3 separate regions of the Homo sapiens genome follow, and regions 1 and 2 are each reported to be linked to region 3. Evidence: microRNA targets listed by miRTarBase, many of them from high-throughput screens and not tested one by one. Region 3 holds a microRNA gene; each other region holds the end of a gene's coding sequence.
Evidence for each region. Region 3 holds the annotated microRNA hsa-miR-1288-3p (UGGACUGCCCUGAUCUGGAGA, at 2,127-2,147, opposite strand). A microRNA usually pairs through its seed, bases 2 to 8, with sites in the 3' UTR of a target mRNA and lowers its output. Matches are read on the target gene's strand: a 7mer-m8 pairs with bases 2 to 8, a 7mer-A1 pairs with bases 2 to 7 and ends in A, and an 8mer does both.

Region 1: miRTarBase lists ITFG2 as a target of hsa-miR-1288-3p. Seed matches in the 3' UTR shown: 7mer-m8 at 1,496-1,502.
Region 2: miRTarBase lists LHFPL3 as a target of hsa-miR-1288-3p. The part of its 3' UTR that is shown has no 7-base or 8-base seed match.

The regions. Positions count from the first base shown.
Region 1 is chr12:2,823,504-2,831,064 of GRCh38, forward strand. ITFG2 (integrin alpha FG-GAP repeat containing 2) reads left to right here. Exons shown (of 12, transcript NM_018463.4): 11 at 267-440; 12 at 587-1,573. The coding sequence ends at 690. It overlaps NRIP2 (nuclear receptor interacting protein 2), which reads right to left. Exons shown (of 6, transcript NM_031474.3): 2 at 7,205-7,357; 3 at 4,829-4,911; 4 at 4,423-4,544; 5 at 4,122-4,174; 6 at 1,845-3,796. The coding sequence ends at 3,704. Among named protein-coding and RNA genes, the nearest start is that of NRIP2, 7.8 kb to the right of the region's middle. RefSeq lists a silencer at 1,620-1,914.
Region 2 is chr7:104,905,261-104,912,722 of GRCh38, forward strand. LHFPL3 (LHFPL tetraspan subfamily member 3) reads left to right here. Exons shown (of 3, transcript NM_199000.3): 3 at 927-3,301. The coding sequence ends at 955. LHFPL3-AS2 (LHFPL3 antisense RNA 2) reads right to left here. Exons shown (of 4, transcript NR_027374.1): 3 at 6,656-6,816. It also overlaps the pseudogene RN7SL8P. Among named protein-coding and RNA genes, the nearest start is that of LHFPL3-AS2, 18 kb to the right of the region's middle. RefSeq lists a silencer at 4,919-5,075.
Region 3 is chr17:16,276,643-16,284,204 of GRCh38, reverse strand. It overlaps MIR1288 (microRNA 1288), which reads right to left and starts at 2,191; the gene lies at 2,117-2,191. The region is part of intron 2 of PIGL (phosphatidylinositol glycan anchor biosynthesis class L); the gene reads right to left.

The DNA.
Region 1 (7,561 bases), not on the chromosome of region 3:
GGGAAAAGCAATAAATAGCACCTTTTTGGATGCTATTCTGCCCGGGTTTTGTTACTATGGTTTTTCTACATCTGAAGTGAGCCAGGTCTTTTCCCATCTTACTTGTTTTACTGAGTTCCCAACAGAGAAGAAATAACCTTTAATTTTTTTCCTGACATCAGTGGGAGGATGGAAAGTGCTGACTCGGAGGTCTGTGTCTTGCTGTCTGCCCCCCACTGTCGGCACTGAAACTTCCTGACCTTTATCTCCCTGCCAACATCTTCCAGGCCTGTACGCCTGCAAAGAGGGCCGCAACAGCCCCTGCCTCGTATATGTCACTTTCAACCAGAAGATCTATGTGTACTGGGAGGTGCAGCTGGAGCGGATGGAGTCTACCAATCTGGTGAAACTGCTGGAGACCAAGCCGGAGTACCACAGCCTGCTGCAGGAGCTGGGCGTGGGTGAGTCCCAGAAAAGCCAGTGGCCCGAGTGCCCAGGAGACCCACAGCATGCTGCAGGAGCTGGGCGTGGGTGAGTCCCAGAAAAGCCAGTGGCCCGGGTGCCCAGGAGACCCACAGCCTCTTACCCACCCCTTCTTGGCTCTCAGATCCTGACGACCTCCCTGTGACTCGTGCCCTGCTTCACCAAACGCTCTACCATCCAGACCAGCCACCACAGTGTGCTCCCTCAAGCCTCCAGGATCCCACCTAGCTGTACTTGCCTCATAGCTGGTGAAGGATTCTTCTGAACCCCCACCCTACCCCCTAAAGGTATCTGTGGTATTGGCAGGATAGGGAATATGCATTACAGAAATGCAGGATTTGACTCTGGGCATGAAAGATGGCAGCAGCCCTAGGGTGACCGTGAACTATAGACCTCGCAGTCTTTTCGGTGAAAGAAGAGACAAGTTGACCCTCTGCCCATTTCCTTATGGACCTCACCCATCATGCCAGCAGGGTCATAGGACCCTGGCCTTGTTCCAAATCATCTGGGACATGACCCACTCCCCACTGTCACTGTGTTGAAAACAGAGACTTGTTTGTGTGGCCCCAACACCCATAAGGAAACCAGGCTTTAGGCCCAGGGGAGCAGTGGAGGTAAGGGCTCCACCCCATCTTAAGCTCTGTCTTCCGTGGCACAATTCCAAGTTCTTGACGTTAGTAATTGTTAAAGGAATGGCAAACTGTTTTGTTTTGAAGGATCTTTCTACAGTCTGGTCTTACCCATGTTCCTAGCAACCCTGAGATGATTTTCTTCCATTTACCAAAGCAGCCGGGTCAGTGCTTTCTCACGTTGCCGTATTCTTCAGGTATTAGTCAGCTTCAGAAGCCCTGCTCCCATTTTTCCACCCACCCATTCCCCCATAAAACAGCTTATTGTCTCCAAGACAATAGACATTTAAAATGTGATGCGGGTTTATGATCCAGACCACAATCAGAATTATATCTTGGGTCATTTATGTGCCGTCTGTTCTTGATTCTCTATGCTCTAAATCGGTGTTTTTCAAACTGTGGTTGCAGTCCTTTGGTGGATTATGGCCAGCATTTTTTAAATAGGTAGAATAGAATAAAGTAAAATAGAAAATAGCAGAGTACATTGCTCTCAGTGTAGGTAAGTATTGTTTTGTTAGTCATATGTGCATGTGTGTACTGAGTGCCATGTAAAATGTATTCCTGCTGTGGTAAGCTGTGGTCGAGGAGTTTGAAAGCCATTGCTTTCAAATTCCTCTCAATTATACTGACCCTAGTCAGATGGGTCAGCCTGGGCAAGGGCCCACATTTACATTTCCTTTCTGTAAGGGACAATGGGCAATTATCACTCAGCTCTTGATAGGCAGGGAGGAAGACCAGAGAAGAACATCGACATAGAGAAACAAGAGTTTATTCCAATGGAGAAGCAGCTGAGCCGAGGGCTTGCCATTGGGCCTGGGGTCTGCAGTTACAGAAGCAGCAGGAGGCAGACAAGGAAAGGCACAGCACAAGACCCAGGAAAGTGGACCTTGTGGAGCAAGGCAGTGAGGGCGAGGAAAGCTTTTAGGATTTTGAGACCAGGTGCTATGGCACAAGTGATAAGTGAGCCCTCTCCTTTCCTTCTGAGGGCAGGGGAGGCAGCTGAGAAAGGGCAGGGGAGGCAGCTGAGAAAGGGCAGGCCAGGTGTCACAGGCAGCTCCTTGCATCCCGGTTCTTCTCTAACCCAGTCAACCCCAGGCTCAAGACTGTTTCAGCCCAACGGTCCCAGTTCCCTTGTTCAGGTTAGCTGTACCACTGTCTTTCTCTGCTCCTTTTTTGTTTGTTTTTGGAGACAGGGTCTCACTCCTTCACCCAGGCTGGAGTCCGATGGCACGAACTTGGCTCACTACAACCCCCATCTCCCAGGTTCAAGCAACTCCTATGCCTCAGCCTTCCAAGTAGCTGGGATTACAGGTGTTCACCACCATACCTGGCTAATTTTTGTATTTTTTAGTAGAGATGGGGTTTTGCCATATTACCCAGGCTGGTCTCAAACTCCTGACCTCAAGTGATCCACCCACCTCAGCCTCCCAAAGTGCTGGGATTACAGGCATGAGCCATTGCGCCTGGCCTCTTTCTTTACTCCTAATCCATGATTTGAGAGACTCAAACCAGCCAGAAAGACTCTCAGGGATCTGGCGTCTTAAGGTTCGGGTTCTTCTCTTCACAGTGAATTCAAAAAAGCCTCTGTCTCCTGACAGACCCCAAACTTTAAAAAAAAAAAAAAAGCCTCTGTCTTTTTGCTTTGGCAAAGCCTGGCAGGGGGTTAGAAAGCCACTGATTCCAGGACAATACAAGCTTAAGCTCAAGAGGCCAGAGATGGGGATAGGAAGAAGGCCTAATGAGGTGGATAGTTCTAGAAATCAGAAAGAATGCTGAATAGGTGAAGTCTGAGTGGTGACAACCTCACTGTCCTGTCTGCCTCACAGGAGCAGTTCTCTACAAGGCTCTTCCACACACACACACGCAAGGCTCAGGGGCTCGGTGGGTACAAAAAGCCAGTGGAAACGGATAAATACCTATAGCGTTAATAGCAGAAGTATGTCCAAGGTTTTGCACAGGGTAATCAAACTAACTGGCTTCAGACATTTGCAGCCACAGGAAAAAATAGCTCTCAGCCTTATGAGATGGACATTCCTATACTAACTCCCGCTCTTTGTTGTATTGAATTCTGGCTGTTTCTTCCCCCACTCAACTGTGAGCAGATGTGCACAGACTCCGAGAGGCAGACACCAGGAGGTCCAGGGACATAGGTTGGTGAGGCATGGCGGTCTAGTTGTGGGAGATAATGAGGCCCAGAAGGTGTGGTGAGAGACATGGTGGTGTGGGAAGTTGAGTTGTGTTTGGGGTGGTATTGGGTGATGGACAAGGACAGCAGTCAGCAGAGCCTTCGACCCAGCCCAAGCAGGCACCCCATTGTGCTTAGGTTCCTATCTGTGGTCTTGATTTGGCTTTGCTTTTCTTGGGAGGAAGATGAATCAGAATCCTGGCATCGTGGGCCCTCTAGTGAAAACTCGTCCTGGGGAGTAGGACAGCTGCTGAGAAGCAGAGAGGAATGCGGCCAGCTGGGGAAAATGGGACAGCAGGGGTCAGGGAGGTGATTGGAAGGGCAGACACCATAGTCCCCAGCTACCTGGCTTCAAGAGCCCCCGTTCCCCACACGCCTCTTCTTCTAAGGCAAGGTCTTTCCCTCTGGGGACTGACTGAGACAGCAGTCACTGGCCAGGCTCTTGGTACAAAGGCAGGAAGGGTAGCTCTGAGAACGGGGCTTTCAGCCGCAGCACTCCGTGCTCCAGGTCGATGCAGCACTGCGGGGTGTAGAGCAGTCATGCCAGGTCACCTCAGCCCGCCACCTGCCTCCCGGCCTGCTCCTTTTGTTCCCCCTCCCACTTCCCACAGCTTCCACCTGCCTTTTGCTCTTCCCCCATCCCCATTTCCCTAGACTCCTGTTGAAGGGGGTGACCCAGTTCTCTTGATTTTTCACTTGGTGGTAAGTAAGGAACCTCTAAGGAAGCAAAGGGACAGTTGCCCATCTCTAAGTCACTCTCATCAGAACCTGGTCCAGGTTCCACACCTGTGCCTTCTACTACTTTTTCCCAGTGCTTTGGGTCAGGCCCTGAGTGGGTGCCTTACCTTGAGAGAAAGCAGAGTCTGCAGGCCCAGGCAGAATTCAGGACTCTCAGCATCTATAGGAACAATTTGAAAACAGAAGAGGCTGAGGGTTCCCAGTGGTCACTGCTGCCCTCCTCTTAGCCGTTGCTCCTTCTCTGCCCACCCCATCCCCAGATCCGAGGACACTGGCACAGAGATGGGGGATAGTCAGAACATCTCTGGGAACTCCTCGTGCTGCAGGGAGTGAAAGTCTCAGCCTTTGCCCCACCCCAAAGAGAAAGGTGAGGTGAGCACCAGGGCTGTTGCAGAAGGGGGGACTTACCCACCACCTGTGCCGAGCACACCACAGTCTCCTGCCCCAGCTGTAGCTCCAACTGCTCCACCTGGGTTGGGGGCCCAGGGGCCAGGTCCCCAGCTGAGGCTTTTAGGACCCTTTTCTCTAACCTGTGGTTGGGAAGCAAGGGTTATGGCTACCACAGCCCCTAGAGGGTTCCACCCCATTAATCAGCAGGTGTCCCTCTCTACTATGGTTTCATCTCCAACCCCTGACCTCACGTGGGGTCTAAATCCTTGCCTTCTCTGCCAGAGTCTTCTAGCCACTCTTTTGTTAAATAACAGCTTTATTGAGATAAAATATGCAACTGTCGTCACTATCTAATTTGAGAATATTTTCATCACCCCAAAAAGAAACCCTGTCCCCCACTTGCTTGTTTGGGCCACATTCTTACCCCAGGCGGCTGAGACATCCAGCAGAGATCCGATTGTATTGGGTGCCTGTGTCAACGGCCACTCTAAGCAGCTGGTCCTGGCACTAAGAAAGAAGAATCGTGGTGAATCAGTGAGTCCCTAGGAGAATGGGTTGGAATTGGATCCTTCAGTTTCCCAGCCCATTGATGATTCCCTCCTAGAAATGAGTGGAGAAAATGAACTGTCTTTAAAACTGGCTTTTATCGGGGCCAGGCGCGGTAGCTCACGCCTGTAATCCCAGCACTTTGGAAGGCCGAGGCGGGTGGATCACCTGAGGTCGGGAGTTCAAGACCAGCCTGACCAGGGTTTAGTAGAAACCCTGTCTCTACTAAAAATACAAAATTAGCTGGGTGTGGTGGCGCATGCCTGTAATCCCAGCTACTCGGGAGGCTGAGGCAGGAGAATCGCTTGAACCCGAGAGGCGGAGGTTGTGGTGAGCCAAGATCACGCCATTACACTCCAGCCTGGGCAACAAGAGCAAAACTCTGTCTCAAAACAAACAAAAAAACTGGTTTTTATGAGACTCATACAATAGGGGCAGAACTCCCAGATAAATAAATCAAAAAAGGAAGTGGACCAGGTGCGGTGGCTCATGCTTGTAGTTCTAGCACTTTGGAGGCAAGAGGATCACTTGAAGCCAGGAGTTCAAGACCAGCCTAGGCAACATAGCAAGACTCTGTCTCTACAAAAAATAAAATGGAAAAAAAAAAAGTGGTTATATGTGATGGGTTCATAAGTTTGGGGAAGATCTGCCAGAAATGGAGAAACGGTGATTTGTTTGTTTAGAGGAATCCTTGGGAGTTTGATGGCCTCCTGGTTCGAAAACTCCAGGTTAGGAATAGAGGAAGGATGAGAAGACTGGAATCCCTGTTAGGAAACTCAGATATGAGTAACCAAGAAGTTCGCTATTGGAAACAAAGGAAGACAACTTCACCTACTTTGGGACATAGACATTTTGATATACGCTTGGATATACACACACATCGTTTTCTCATTCCAAACATTCATTGAGTATTTACTATAAGATATGTTACCGGAAGGTATATCAATGAATGCTATTCTTCAGGAGTCTAAAGGAAGTATAATATAACTCTACTATATGGCAGAAAGTTTTATGGTCTATAAAAGGATGTGAATGCCCTGGCCCTGTGGCTCACACCTATCTATAATCCAAGCACTTTGGGAGGCCAAGGTGGAAGGATCGCTTGAGGCCAGGAGTTCAGGACCAGCCTGACCAACGTGGTAGTCTAAAAATACAAAAAAAGAATTAGCCAGCTGTGGTGGCGCACACTTGTAATTTTAGCTACTCAGAAGACTGAGGTGGGAGGATCGCTTGAGTCCAGGAGGTTGAGGCTGCAATGAGCTCTGATCATGCCACTACACTCCAGCCTGGGTGACAGAGTAAGAATCTGTCTCTAAAAAATAAACAAAAGGACCGGAAAAGTCGAGGGGTGCGGTGGCTCACGCCTGTAATCCCAGCACTTTGGGAGGCCGAGGTGGATGGATCACCTGAGGTCAGGAGTTTGAGACCAGCCTGACCAACCTGGAGAAACCCCATCTCTACTAAAAATACAAAATTAGCCAAGTGTGGTAGTGTGGGCCTATAGTCCCAGCTACTTAGGAGGCTGAGGCAGGAGAATCGCTTGAACCCAGGAGGCAGAGGCTGCAGTGACACAAGATCATGCCACTGCACTCCAGCCTGGGTGACAGAGCGAGACTCTGTCTCAAAAAAAATTTTTTTTTTTAAAAAAAGGACGTGAGTAACATGCCTTAGAGGTTGGGAGGGAGGAAAGGCTGTTTCCTACTGGGGAAATCAGAAAAGGTTTCAAGGAGGAGGTAACATCTGAGCTGGGCTTTTGCTTGCAGAATGCGGACCCAGAATGATTGGAGAGCAAGAAGAGCAATCCACATAGAAGAAGCACAGAGCAAAGACGGTGGCCGAGGACCAGTGGGAATTTATTGCGAATGTTCAATAGTGACTGAGTGGTTAAGTGGTTCCAGAGATTACAGGGCCAATGCCTTAGAACACATGAGTTTTTTCCAGAATTACGTTATCCATGCACACACACCATTTGTCTGTGTAGAGCACACTGAGGAGTACTTACTTAATTTAAGTATTGTATTTTGACCAAGGAAGGGGGGCAGAGTAATGGTGGTGACAGATGGAGTTGCACCGAGGAGACATGGCTTGGGGCAGGGAGGAAGGAGGTAGAGGATCCTGGTTAGGTCCAGGCTAGGGAGAGAGGTGCCCTTTCTCCCTCCCTCCCTCTCCCATCAGGGCAGAGCAGAAAGGAGAGCAGGTGAAGTGAGTGCAGGCAGGGTTGTTAATGAAAGTGTGTCCCTGGGAGGCCTCTCACCTTGCAGTTGACCAGAAGAGCTGGAATCTCTGTCCTGCTGGTCTTCCTCCTGCTCTCCTGGCCATGAATCAGGTCCTGCATCCGGGGAGGCTCCCCCTGAAGCCAATTCGGGTTTCCCTCCACCAGGCGTCTTTGGATCACACTGCGCGGCTGCTGGCTCCATCACAAAACAATGAAGGTAGGCAGTTCTAAACCCAGGCATCCAGGCTGCTCAGTTACCCCACTTAGATACCCCAGGATGCTCCCCCCACCCCCCCAGCCCTGAGCCTTACCCTAGGAGTTTACCCTAGGGTCCCAGATAATGAGAGCAGAGTAAGCCCCAGTATCAAATCATGCCGTTTTCCTTGGACACCCATA
Region 2 (7,462 bases), not on the chromosome of region 3:
ATATTTTAAAATATAAATAGATCTTTATATAAAAGATATTCATATTTATAATAATAAATCAGAAACCTTCCTATATGTCTGACAATAGTGAAACAGTTGCAAATGGAATATTGAGCATAGAGTAGAAAGGAATGAGAATGAGGCAGAATATTATGCAGCCATTGAAAATTCATGCTGATGGTGGGGCACAGTAGCGCACACCTGTCATCCCTACACTCTGGGAGGCTGGGGAAGGTGGCTCACTTCAGCTCAGGAGTTCGAGATCAGCCTGGGCAACATGGTGAAACCCTGTCTCTATATTATAAATTAAGTAAATAAATAAATAAAAGAAACTTATGCTGATATGGACAATGGAAATTTAGAAAATTGTCTTTAATGTAATGTTTAAATGTTTAAAGTATCATCTATACTGTAATTACAATTGTATAAAATAATTTCCCATTTAGATAAGGAATGGAAAGAAATATAGGAAGAAAACAGTTGTGTCCAAGTGATTAAATTGTGGGTCATTAATCTTTATAATAATTTCTTTTGTAGCTGCTATAATGTTGAGTTCAAATAAATAAAACTTGGAAAGAAAAGGAAAACACTCAAGTGACACATTTTTCCATGCTAAGCAGAAAAGTCAGTGATACTTGGGAACAGTCCACATTTTTCCTTGCTCCTTCAAAGCAGCCTCTAATCTTGACCCAGATGGAGGGAATACTCATGTTCTTCTTGCTGGGAAGACTGTACTGTGGGTTGAATGGAACAGAAATCTCAAACTTTCCAGTATTGTTTGGTAACAAATGCAAAATGCATTTGAACCATTCATTGGTATAGTTTTTCCGTGACAAATATTATGCACAAAAATCTTGCAGACAGAAAATGATGTATTTTTTCTCTCCCCCCACCCTTTTTCTCTCTCTTCCCTCCAATTTCTGCAGTTCTGCTAAGCCAATATTCTCTAGAATGAGCACAAAACAAATCGAATAACAGCTAAACAAATCGAATAACAGCTAAACGAATCGAATAACAGCTTTTGTACATCAACATCAAGAAGGAATACGCCTGAGAGAGATCAGAGTATATAGATGAATATGAACAAGAATGGAACATTCACTTGTCAACGCACTTTCTAAATCTAGATCAGCAGAGATGGGAGTGATTTTCTGGAAAGAGATGTGATCATGGATTAAACACCAGCTCATTGGAAACTCATTGGATGAGATCAGAAAACGTTCATGAAAAATCATATTCAGGAAATAAGGAAGAGGAATATAAATGCTCTAGAGTTAACATGTAAAATATATACGTACTGAGGTTTGTAAACTGTCCTTTTTAAATCAAACTGAAAACAAAAAGCTTTAACCTTTCAACAGAATTTTTAAAAAGGCAGTTAGTTCTAAATTATTCCTATCTCAATAGCCAAGAGGCTGATCAAGCGTCATTTATTGAGGAAGCATCTTAGAAAATGCCTCTGAATGTTTTCATAGGAGCCGTGACCTTTGGTTCTTCATCTCTACCATTCATTTACTTCACTGTGTAATTAGTTACAACCACTCAGTTATTAAGAGACGTAACGCTTCAAACTTTTTACCAAGTCTGTGTTCTGTTTAATCTGTCCATACAAGTTATTACTGAGAAAGTGTTTATGCCATATACTATTACTCCATCAAGCTGTATATTACAGGAAGTACATCTTTACATCATAGGTTCCCAAGCAACATAGATTTCCCTATCTTTCAGGAAACAGCATCAAGGAACTCTGAAAAATATAGAAAAAGTTCATTTTCACCTTGGAAGCTCACGTGTAATATTATAGGCTACTATCAAATAAACACTTTTTTTCTAATTCTCCCTAGTATATGCATAGGAATTTAATATACTTTATAAATAAGTATCTAAAATGTCTCCTACTTTTTTCCTATTTCTTTGCCATACATGTTATCAGAAATCCATGTCTTCTATTTCCCTTACTGATGGGCACTCATTTTTATTTTTTTAAAAATCATTCCATTAAACATATTTCTAAATAATAGTAAGTGGTACTAACAAAATAAATAATAATTTAATAGCCTTAGAAATAAATGACTGTATACTTATACAGGTTGAAAAAAACTCGGTAGGAATAAGTTACCTTTTTGTTTACTAATGTTGGTTTCAAAAATACTCAGATTCATTTTAGTTGGCTGACATCTGGAAGTAGTTAACAACTAACCAGTGGACTTCAACAATCATTTGCTCCCAGGCTTCCCCCATCATCACCCTCACCACATATCCTGCTAATATCCAACAACAAACAAATATTTAATATTGAAATAGCCCATTGCCTGAGAATGAACACAAGCTAAAATACATGCAAGGGTACTTAATGGAAGCCAAACCATGTTCTATACCTAAGGAGAAAACATGGACATGTAGAATGCTTTTATTCATGTATTCAAAATCAGAACAAATCAGTGTATATCACTAGAACATCAGATGGAGGATAACACAAGAAGTGATACAGATCAGGGTTCACTTCTCTTACCCTCTCTCTGTTAGGACCACATTCCTATTTTAGCCAAATGTTTCTGGTACGGGCCATCTTTTCACCATAAATGGCATTATGTTTCAAATGGCTAAAAGCATATTATGGGTATGCTCAAAGGAGTAAAACCCAATTCACAGAGATGTGGCTTTTCTAAAGAACCAAATTAAGGGAATACTTAGTATCTACAACTAAAGTATTAGTCATTCTGAGGATTATTTGTTGCTTTAAGTATTAGCTCCCTACTACATCCATAACACCCTACTTACTAAATTTAATTACACACAACTTTTCAAGAATTCGTATTTTATTTGAAGGGAGGTACCTGTCTACTTTATCTACAATAAAAACAAAGGGTATTGGCTTTCTCTAATCCATGCAAACTACAAATTCCATCGGGAGTCCTACATCACTAACAGTGGTATGAACAAAACTAAGAAAGTACTTCCTATCCACATGTGAATGTTTTAAAAAAGTTTTTGCCATAAAACCTAAGTGTAATTTAGCATACCACAGTGCTCTGAAGATGGGTCATTGACGATGTACCATTTGTATATAGGTAATACACATGTAAATCACTAATTGTTAATTAAATATAAGAAGTAGGTTTTTATCTTTTTAAAAAAAAAACAAAAAAGGTGACTCCCTTTCTCATTCTGTTCTGTTGTATTGCGTCCAAAAGTTGTGTGTAATTTTTTTAAGGTCCAAGAAATGTAAAGAAATTTGTTGGAATACCTGAATTTCTGTAAAAAAATAAAAATAAAAATAAGATTTTGTTACTTAAAAGAATTTTTGGTGGTGTGGTACATATTTGGTGCATTCAGTTTCTGTCTTTGTCCAGTGATCTGGTGACAGCTGATGGTTCCACTGAAGTAACTATCTCGGAAAATCTCCCTGCTGTTGGATTCCATATCTGTCAACAGCAGGACTCTCATGTAGAAGGCATGGTTAACATCTCCAAAGCCTCTTCTGGCCAAATGTAGGAATATCTCCAGCTAATTCTCCATACACTCAGTGGAATGAAATTGATAACTAAATAAATAGCTGGACTACTCAAGTAAAACTTGACCTGCAATATCCAATTGCCCAATCTCCCCTTTGCAAATTGAAAACAACCAACCATTCCTCGCACATGAGCAACCCTTCATACTGGGTATATGAAGCAACAACACTTCATACTGGGTATATGTTGTCTGAGTGGGTTCCAATCCCTGATCCTTGGTTTACTATATGACTCTGAACAACTCTAAGCCTCAGTGTCCTCACTGGTAAAATAGATATAAATAATATTACTCAGCTCCATAGCATTGTTGTAAGGATATAAATTAAACTATACTGTTGTTGTGTTTGACAGGTAGGGGATATTCAGTGAATGTTCATTCCTTCCCCTCCTACTATATGCAAGACACTGAAGGAAGAAAAGAAACATAAAAAAAAGTCTCTGCTCTGAAGATCCTGAAGACAATTAGAGTGACATTTATAAGCAGGGATTGAAAATTCAAATGCGTACAAGGGCCAATAAATTCACAAAGCAAGCTCAGCTGGGGACATAATAGGGCGTAGTAGGAACTGGCCTGGCACAGTGGCCTCTAATCCCAGTACTTTGGGAGGCTGAGGCAGATGGATCACTTGAGTCCAGGAGTATGTGACCAGCCTAGGCAATATAGTGAGATCCCTTCTCTGAAAATAAAAAAAAAAAACAACAATAATTTTTTAAATAAAATAAAATAAATTTTTAAAAGGAAGTAGTGGGAACTGTGGAGCACTGAAGAGCCTAGGTCCCGTCTAAAGGGAATAAGTAGTCAACGCTCAGCTCTAATGATTCAAGAAATATGTATTGAGTTCCTACTATGTGCCAAGAACTGTTCTAAACTCTGAGAATATAGTGGTGAATCACACAAAACCCTGCTTTCCTTTCATAGGTCTTATGTTCTAGTAGGGGAAGACAGACAATAGACTGGAAAATGTCAGCTAATAATAGATGCCCTAAAGAGAATTAAAACAGGGTGATTGACAGAGAAATGGAGAGAGGAGTCAGGTAAGGCCTCCATGAAAAGGTGGCATTTAGAGTGAGACCTGAACAAACGTTTAAAAGCCACGTGTGAAAAAAGCAGAAGGCATGCCAGACCAGGAACGGCAAGGTGGCAGAGTGGGGAGCCACGTGGGCTAAGCTAGGACCCAGCTCTGGGCTTTGTAGGCCAGGATAGTTTGTACATTTTAAGTGTGAGAAAAAGCCACTGGAGGATCTTAAGCAGAAGAGTGATATAAACTATTTCACATTTCTAAAAGATTACTTTTGGTTTCGGCATCTAGCAGTATAAACTAGATACTCTAAAAAGCCTTTCTTTTTTTTTTTTTTTTTTTTTTTTTTTTAAGACGGAGTCTGGCTCTGTCACCCAGGTTGGAGTGCAGTGGGGCGATCTTGGCTAACTGCAACCTCCGCACCACCATGCCCAGCTAATTTTTGTATTTTTAGTAGAGACGGGGTTTCACCATGTTGGCCAGGCTAGTCTTGAACTCCTGACCTCATTATCCACCCACCTTGGCCTCCCATAGTGCTGGGATTACAGGCGTGAGCCATTGAGCCCAGCCTCTAAAAAGCCTTTCTTATGCCATACTATTAAATCTTAGATAAATTACAATAAGTTTATTTTTAACACACAGCTTAGATTATAAGAAAATAAGGGAAATTCCAAAAACATTTCAAAAAAGAAGTGGAGTGAGCTGAAAACTAAGTGTGAAATGTAAGCAAAGGCAAAAACTGGGCTTGCCTGAAGGTAAATCTGTATAACAAAGTAGGGAATGGAAGATTAAGCGTTGGGCCACTGGAAGCAGGTGAGTTAAATTTGACATTCACATCCAAAAGCAGGATGCTTGAAGATGGCTACATCCTAGGCAAGAGTGGTCTAGGAAAAATCCTCATGCTAGCGAAAGAAATCTATCAAGAACACCATCTCCACACTGGCTCTAGATGGAAAAAAAAAATAATAATGACCCCTTGAAATTTATCATATGCCTGCCCCCGTCAAGTATGGAATTCAGTCTTACACTCTCCATATGATCAAAGAAACCCCAACCAAGAAATTAAAGAGCTTTTTAGGGCCCCTTGTACCAGGCAGATACAAGCATTTGTTGTCTAGAGGAAAGCATCTCTCGCATAGCTCTCACCAATTAAGCTCAACAAAGTATGCAATTGCAATTTTAAAATTACTAAATATGGCTGGGCGCGGTGGCTCACGCCTATAATCCCAGCACTTTGGGAGGCCGAGGCAGGCGGATCACGAGGTCAGGAGATCGAGACCATCCTGGCGAACACGGTGAAACCCCGTCTCTACTAAAAATACAAAAAGAAAAAAATTAGCCGGGCGTGGTGGCGGGTGCCTGTAGTCCCAGCTACTCGGGAGGCTGAGGCAGGAGAATGGCGTGAACCCGGGGGGCGGAGCTTGCAGTGAGCCGAGATCGCGCCACTGCACTCCGGCCTGGGAGACAGCGAGACTCCGTCTCAAAAATAAAAATAAAAATTACTAAATATACAAATAAACTGTAAGCGATAATCAGCAGATATAACTAACAGCCGACTTATCACCCTACAGATTTTAGATAGTGGAATTACCAGATACACAATATAAAATAATCATGTTTTACATGTTAAGGAAATAAAGACAGCGTCTAAAACAATGAATACAATAAAGAGTACATTACATATAATCAGATAGATTAGAAGGAAATTTTTTAAGTCTTAGAAATTAAAACTATAATCACTGAAATTTAAAGTACAATGTGTAAATTACAAACAGGTATAACTGAAGAGAGGAGCTGTGAACTAGTAGACAGATCTAAAGAAATTACACAGAATACAATACAAAAAGCCAAGGGGTTGGTAAATGACAAAGAGGTTAAACAACAGAGAAGACACAGACATCTAACCAGATTTCCAACAGGAGAAATAGAGAGAATAAGGGAAAGGCAATATTTGAATAGAAAATGTCTGAAAATTTTTCAAAAATGATAAAGATATGAATCCACACATATAGGAAGCACAATAGATATCAAGCAAGATAAATATAAAGGAAGACATGACAGTAAAAATACAGGGAAAAACAGAGGAACTACCATAACAAGAACCAAAGAGAAATGGCATACCTCAGGGTGCGTGCCTGTGGTCCTGGCTACTTGGAGGCTGAGGCAGGAGGATGGCTTGAGCTCAGGAGCTCTGGGCTGCAGTGCACTGTGCCCATCAGGTGTCCGTGCTAAATTCAGCATCAAGAGGGTGACCTCCCTGGAGCGGGGAACCGCCAGGTTGCCTAAGGAGGGGTGAACCGACCCAGGTCGGAAACGGAGCAGGTCAAAACTCCCGTGCTGATCCTTTGCACCACCTGCAAAGGAATAATTTCTGGGCCAACAATAAATACCAGACACATTAGCATGATATATTTAAACTGCTGAGATAAAATAACTGTCAAAATAGACAGAGCGCACTGGCTCATCTCTCTACTCCCAGAACTTTGGGAGGCCAAGACAGGCAGATCACTTGAGGTCAGGAGTTCAAGGCCAGCCTGGCCAACATGGTGAAACCCCATCTCTACTAAAAATACAAAAATTAGCTTGGCGTGGTGACGTGTGCCTGTAATCTCAGCTACTCCGGAGGCTGAGGCACAGGAATTGCTTGAACCCCGGAGGCGGTTCTAGCCTGGGTGAGAATGAGACTCTGTCCAAAAAAAAAAAAAAAAAAGAGAGGAAAAGAAAAACAACTTGGCATTATCTTCTACAACTGAACATTTGCATGCACTAAATTCATCAGTTTTATTCCTAGGTATATATGCTGGAGAAATTCTTGCACATAAGCACCAAAAACCATGTACAAAAATGGAAAACCTTCGTCTAACAGATTGCTAAAAATACAAGGAAAATGTCCATCAACAAGGATAAATAAACTATTTACAATTTGCA
Region 3 (7,562 bases):
AGGAGTTCAAGACCAGCCTGGCCAACATGGTGAGACTACGTCTCTACTAAAAATGCAAAAAATTACCTGGGTGTGGTGGCGGGCGCCTGTAATCCCGGCTACTCAGGAGGCTGAGGCAGGAGAATCGCTTGAACCTGGGAAGCGGAGGTTGCAGTGAGCCGAGATCGCACCGTTGCACTCCAACCTGGGCAACAAGAGTGAAACTCCGTCTCAAAACAAAAAAAAAGAAAGAAAAGCAGCTTTCATGAGCAATATCCTGGTGGCCACCCAAGTTCATGATGAGGCAGATGCGGGATGTATTTCCCTCTCTATGAGGCAATGCTGACAGACCAGGAAGGGAACTATGAGATAAGGCTTTAAGCTTGATCGATGGATTCTGATTGAAGTTAAGTGGGTTCTTACTCATATTCAACAGCATTAATAGTAATTGCTAACTCCTTAATAATTCAATAAGAGCTTTTGTATAATCGGTGATTTAAAAAGTTTTACAAAATCTTCACACTATTCAATTGTTTAATATAGATTAACATCTCTCTCTTATTTTTTTTAAGAGACAGGGTCTCAGTCTGTTGCTTAGGCTGACCTTGAACTCCAGGTCTCAGATGATCCTCCCACCTCACCCTCCCAAAGTGCTCAGATTACAGGTGTGAGCCACGGCACCTGGCCAGATTAACACCTCTTCTAAGAGCAGTGAGTCTTGAATGAGCATGGCTCCTCAGAAATATCTTTTTTTTTTTGAAATAGGGTCTTGCTCTGTCATCCAGGCTGGAGTGCAGTGGTGCAAACACAGCTCACTGCAGCCTCAACCTCCTAGGATCAGGCAATCCTCCTTCCTCAGCCTCTTGAGTAGCTGGGACTACAGGCATGCACAACCACGGCCAGCTAATTAAAACAATTGTTTTGGCCAGGCACAGTGGCTCACGCCTGTAATCCCAGCACTTTGGGAGGCTGAGACTGGCAGATCACCTGAGGTCAGAAGTTAGACACCATCCTGGCCAACATGGTGAAATCCCACCTCTACTAAAAATACAAAAATTAGCTGGGCATGGTGATGTGTGACTGTAATCCCAGCTACTCGGGAGGCTGAGGCAGGAGAATCGCTTAAACCCAGGAGGCAGAAGTTGCAGTGAGCCAAGATCATGCCATTGCACTCCAACCTGGGCAACAGAGTGAGAATCTGTCTAAAAAAAAAAAAAAATTCTTTTTTGGTAGACATGGGGTCTCGCCATGTTGCCCAGGCTGGTCTTGTACTCCTGGGCTCAAGTGATGCTCCCGCTTCAGCTTCCCAAAGTGCTGGGATTGAGCCACTGCACCTGGCCAGAGATATCTTTTGAAGTAGACATTGCTTACTATTACTGGCTGCTGGACCCATAATAGGGGCTGAGTCCTATGACCAGCCTGGACATCTTTCCCAGCTTCTTGAGAGGTGCCAACATCACATCAGGATATATGTATGAGCTGCATTCTGCACTGACTCTTTCACCAACTTAATGAGCACTCTGGATTCCTTGAGATCATTCTTAAAAAGAGTTTGAGGAGGATACCTTCCTTCCACATGACTAATGCTGATTCATTAACCAGAGAATGCAGGAGTTAGAAGGGACTTTAGGAACCATCTAAGTAGTCCTGTTAGCCTCAGAAAGAGTAATTCTAGGGATATTTTGTGAAATCAACACTGACTATGTTTGGGAGGTAAAATGATTCCTTTGTCAAGGTGTTTGGGTATGGGTGTTTAGGGTATGTAAAATTAGATATTTTACATAATAGTAGTAACTAGACTGGTGAAAAAAAAACAGACCAATTATTTACCTCTAATTCAGCATTCCATTGTGCTATCTCTCTCCTATAACTTAGGCTTTTCTAAGTTGTAAAGAACAAGGATATGGAGTCTTTCTACCTCCCTCGTGCATGTTCACTCTGAGATGCTGGCTATGGTGGGCAAGAAGGAGGATAAGCCAAGGGATGCCCAGCCATTCCTCTCACACCCAGAAAAAGGGAGGGCTTTCAGGGGACTGTGGGCAGGCAAAGCTGAAGGAAATTTGGGATATGTGCTAATTCCCAGGAAGACCCTGTCTGGTGATGCTCAGATAGCTTCTGTAGGGTGAATTATTCTCGAAAGGCAGTGGTCTCCAGATCAGGGCAGTCCACCACTATGGTGAGTTACAGTCCTGATCTGCTGATCAACACCCTCTTAGCAGTGCCCCCATGGACAGCTGTCGCCCCCCTTCCATTGTCTGGGGGCAATAGCAGAATGTCTGAGGATGGGTCTTACAGGTTGCATTGCTCTTGCTCCCCTTTGGCTTGCCTGCTTCATGTCAGATGGGAGCTGTACCAGTGGGCACCCCACCTGTGTACCAGAGCTCCTGCTTCTGCAGGAGACTGAGGCCAGTATTTCCTCCTTGTCATGGAAGATTCTATCACAGGTCCCCTTCTTCTTTCTCCTTTAGCCAGTCTCATAAAAATTTGCCAATATCAGTATCCAATTCCTTCTAAAATTAATATTTCTTAGATGTAGGCAAGGAACTAAGCATTAAATATTGCAGCAGAAAATATACACGCCTACCAGGCTAGGGATTTATAGGGAAAATATACAAGAGAGATCCAAATCACTTCAAAATTATTTCCAAGTGGGTTGATGCTATTTGATGTGGTTACTTAAGAATGTAGACAAAAGATACACTTGCAGTGCTGGCCAGAAGATAGCCTTAGTTATTATGAATGTTGCATCTGGCTTTGCAAAGAGCAAATGCCTAGACACATTCTCAGGGATGGGATGGGATTTGTTAAACAATCTCTTGCATCCAGTCTCTGAAACATAAAAGCCGTTGATATTCTTTTAGAGCAGGTAAAAAATGCTTGGACTTTTCTTAGAAAAGGGAGAACATTCCTAGAATTAGCATCTAAAACATGTCAAAATTTAGCTTGCAAAAATGAGTTCAAAATGAACTACTGTTCTACAGCAATGTTTTCCAATTGAGGTCCACAAATCCCTGAGAGTCTGTGGCTAAATTCTCAGGGGTCCATGCATTCCTAGAAAAATTTTTTACTTAAATAATAATCTGAAACATTTCATGATTATTTCCTTGAAAACTTCAAATGAATGTATGTTCATGTGATTTTAGTGCTTATATTTATACATGTGAAAGCACAAGAGTCTTCTCAAAGTAAGTGAGATTTTTTTTCCTTTTAAAAACACCTAGTGAGCCAGGCATGGTGGCTCATGCCTGTAATCCCAGCACCTTGGGAGGCCAAGGTGGGTGGATCACAAGGTCAGGAGTTCAAGACCAGCCTGGCCAAGATAGTGAAACCCCATCTCTACTAAAACTACAAAAATTAGCCAGGCGTAGTGGCAGGCATCTGTAATCCCAGCTACTCAGGAGGCTGAGGCAGAGAATTGGTTGAACCCGGGAGATAGAGGTTGCAGTGAGCCAAGATCGTGCCACTGCACTCCAGCCTGGGTGACAGAGCGAGACTCTATCTCAAACAAAACAAAACAAAACAAAAAAAACACTGAGTGAACCCTAATGCCTAATGTAAATTATGGATTCCAGGTGATAACTATGTGTCAATCAATGTGGGCTAATCAAGTGTAACAAATGTACCATTTGGGTTGGGGATGCTGATAACCAGAGAGGCTGTGCATGCGTGGGGCAAGGGCTATAACTTCTGCTCAATTTTGCTGTGAACTTAAAACTGCTCTAAAAAATAAAGTCTGTTAGAAATAAAAAAAAGTTATGCAAAAAATGACCCAATACTGTATGTAAGCTAAACATGAACAGCAAGTTAAATTAGAAGAAAAGAAAGATCCACCCATCACTCAAAGTTAACTAATTCTGCTCCAAAGTATTGGGGGCTGAAAACCAGCTGGCATTCTCCAGGCAATCAAGGCTAATCTATTTCCATCAACCCTCTTTCTCCAGTCTTATAGGACCCTTAGCCTCTCTCAAGTACAGTCAGTATGGACCCATGCAGGCACCATTTGGTGGGACCTCTGCCCCCAGGAGCAGATAAGGCCTAGAATTACCAATGTGAAAACATATTTTAGACCCAGTATCCAATGGACCAGGGTGAACCTCAAGCATCTGTGTGTACATCAAGCTCTAGGCTCTTCCTCAGTGATGCATATGTTTTTCCATGTCCATGTGCCTGGGCTTCTGCCCTGATGTAGTTGTCTGTTCCTCTACTGGTAATAAACCCAGCCCAGTTAGTCAAGACCATAAGAGGGTCTGGCAAGATGACATTTCCAAGCCTAGTGACTTGAACCAGTTTTCTCTCCTAGATGCTGGCTATAGTCATCTAGCTCCAAACAAGGTCAACCCAGAATCACAGCAAGGCCCCCCTGCCTGACTCTGACCATCTTGTTAGCTAGAAACACTTGCTGCAATGGCTTACCCAATAGATTGGGCCTCCTTGGAAATAGATACTAGTCCACTTCAAGCCTGTATTCACCCCATTCCCAGGCTACTATAATCTGATGACTGACTCACTGGCGTGTGCTGTTGAGGTCCCTGTGCCTCTGATAGACACATCAGTCTGAGATATGACAATCTGGAGCAAGAGAAGGACAATGGGGACAGAGTTTAGGTACAATAGGAAGAATTTAATAAAACTTCTATAGAAAATCTTCTCTTGGGAAGTATAATAAAATAAACAAATGTAAATGAAAATTTAAAAGTTAGAAATATGCATAAATCTGTTCAAGGATAATGCTGAGCCTAAGACCATCCTAAGTGGGTCTCATTGGCCTTGCAGGCAAAATATCTCTTTATTATATGCATTCATTTAGAAGTCACAGTCCTTTGATGCCAACAAGTCTAATCTTATGCCTTACAGTAAATGAACTGGCATCTAAAATATGTCAAAAATTAGGTTGTAGAAATGAATTTAAAGTGACCGGCTGCTCTGCCTATGGAGTTGCCATTCTTTTGTTTCCTTTACTTAATAAACTTGCTTTCACTTTACTCTTTGGATTTGCCTTGAATTCTTTCTTGGGCAAGATCCAAGAACTCCCTCTTGGGGTCTGGATTGGGACTCCTTCCCGGTAACATCTTCCAGGTGAACCCTGAAGGGACAATACTGAGGAAACTCTGGCCCAAAGGAAATAGACTGCAGCACCAATTGGCCAACTTTGGCTGTACCTGCTTATGATGCCCTAGAAACTGTGTGCTTTCCTGGGCCTGTTCCTCCAAGCGCTCTACCCTGAAACCCATAATCCATTTAAGAAACTGGCAAATGAAAAATCTTAACAACTACTGAATATTATTCTGCCTGTCTGTGTATTTATATGGGTTGTGTGTGTGATATGAAAGCATTTTGATTAACTGGTTTAAAAATAATAGGTGCTTAAATCAAATATTGTCAGAAAAGTAAAAAGTATAAATGCCTTTTAGTTCATGAGACTTAAGTAAATCAGTTTTACATGCAAGGAAAGTGAAATGTGTTTTTGGTAAAAGATTATAAAAAGGCATGTGAATGTGGATTTTTTTTTTTTGCCTAGATTTAAGGGTTAAAGGATTGTTTTAGGTTAGATAGGAAAAAGTTGAAGTTTGAACAAGTTGTGGAAGGTTTGTGAAAAATTAATCTTGTAAAAGAAATTCTGTGTGTGAACATATTAGCTAAAATTAAAGGGGTATTATTCAGTTTATCCATAAATTGAAGACTGGAATAAAAGCACAACAGAGTTTTCTTAGAACACTAATCTGCTCTTTAACAAAAATTGTAAAGGGTTTTAAGAGGTTTATAAGAACCTTACCTTATGGTCAGACATTAAAATTGGATAGATTTATCTATAAAGTTTTATTAAGAATCGGGTTTGATCCTGGGCACAGTGGCTCATGCTTGTAATCCCAGCACTTTGGGAGGCCAAGGCAGGTGGATCACCTGAGTTCAGGAGTTTGAGACCCATCCTCACTGGCATGTGCTGTTGAGGTCCCTGTGCCTGGCCAACATGGCGAAACCCTGTTTCTACTAAAAATACAAAAATTAGCCAGGCGTGGTGGCTCACACTTGTAATCCCAGTTACTCGGTAGACTGAGGCAGAAGAATTGCTTGAACCTGGGAGGCAGAGGTTGCGGTGAGCTGGGATCACGTCACTGCATTCCAGCCTGAGCAAAAGAGTGAGATTCTGTCTCAAAAAAAAAAAAAAAGAATTGAGTTTGACATCAATAATGCACTAATTCAATGGTGAAGTTTGGCTTGTTTGGTATAAAAATCATACAGGAAGCACTGTCAAATATGAAATGGCGCTTGGCTTTCTTTGGGCTGTATTTGTATAAATATGTTATTGGTATATGTTCCAAAATCACAGGAAACTCCTACAATTCTGATATGACTTAGTGTATGTTGTTAATCATTATAATTGTTATGTAAAAATTGTTGTATGCCACAGAAGTAACCAAAATTCTTAGTCAACTGTGGCTTTAATAGAGGCTATCCTAAGGTGTTTTGTCACCCACGGACAATTGTTGTCTTGTCTTTGTCCTCTTTAGAAGGTGGTTTTATAATCAATTATAGAACTCTAACAGGTGTTATTGAATGTAGGTTTCTAATAACTTTGTAAATTGTGACATTAAAATAGAGGAAAAAACTTTCAGGACTCATGAAGAGCTGAAATGTTCATGAATATCAAGCAAAACAGGAGTTAACTGCATGGATTGACCTAACAGAAGACTGAAGCAATCTTTTTTTAACTTTTGGCTTAAAACGTTGCTGATCCTTTCTTTTGTTTTTCAGAGCCAAGGAAATTTTTCTTTTGAGCTATTAACAGCTTTTAACAATTGAGTAAAGTATACTCCTGTGAACAAAATTTGAAGCATATTTGTTTCTCTCTGCCCAATTTCTCCAAAATTCAGAAACCATTTGTGAGCATTTTTAACTTATGGCAATATAATTATTTGCATAAATGCAATAAGAATGTTTTCTTTTGTATCAGAACACAATTGGAGAAACTTTTTTTTCACCAAGGCTTTGACTGGAATGACACTCTTTCCTTTAAGGAATCAAACTTGACTTACAGTGCCAATAAAAGCCCCTTAGGAAAACTGGCCTCATACATTGTCTACGTAGTCCCTGTACAGGGTTCTTGACCTGTGGTAAGTAAAGAATGTCACTTTATGACAAGTCCAGGAGCCCCAAGTTATCTTGGGATCTCAAGAAGAGAGAAATTTACCCAACTCATATAGATATTTGAGGGTACAGACCCATGGCTGGGCTCAGCTTTAAAAAAGTCTTATCTGAGATTCCTTCTAAGGAACAAAATTCCATCAAAGCTGATTTTAAAAGCCTATGTGAAAAATAATTATTGTTGCTGCACTTTATACAAATAATGAGGCCAAGTATAACAAAGCAAATCAGTTACCATGATTTGTCTTTAGTAAAAATGGGAGACTGGAGAGAAAAACGTTATGTTTCAAAAACTATGGTACGCATGTTATCAGAGTCTAGTCATTTTATTTTATTTTATTTTTTGAGATGGAGTCTCACTCTTGTCACCCAGGCTGGAGTGCAGTGGCACAATTGTGCCTTACTGCAACCTCCACCTCCCAGGTTCAAGTGATTCTCCT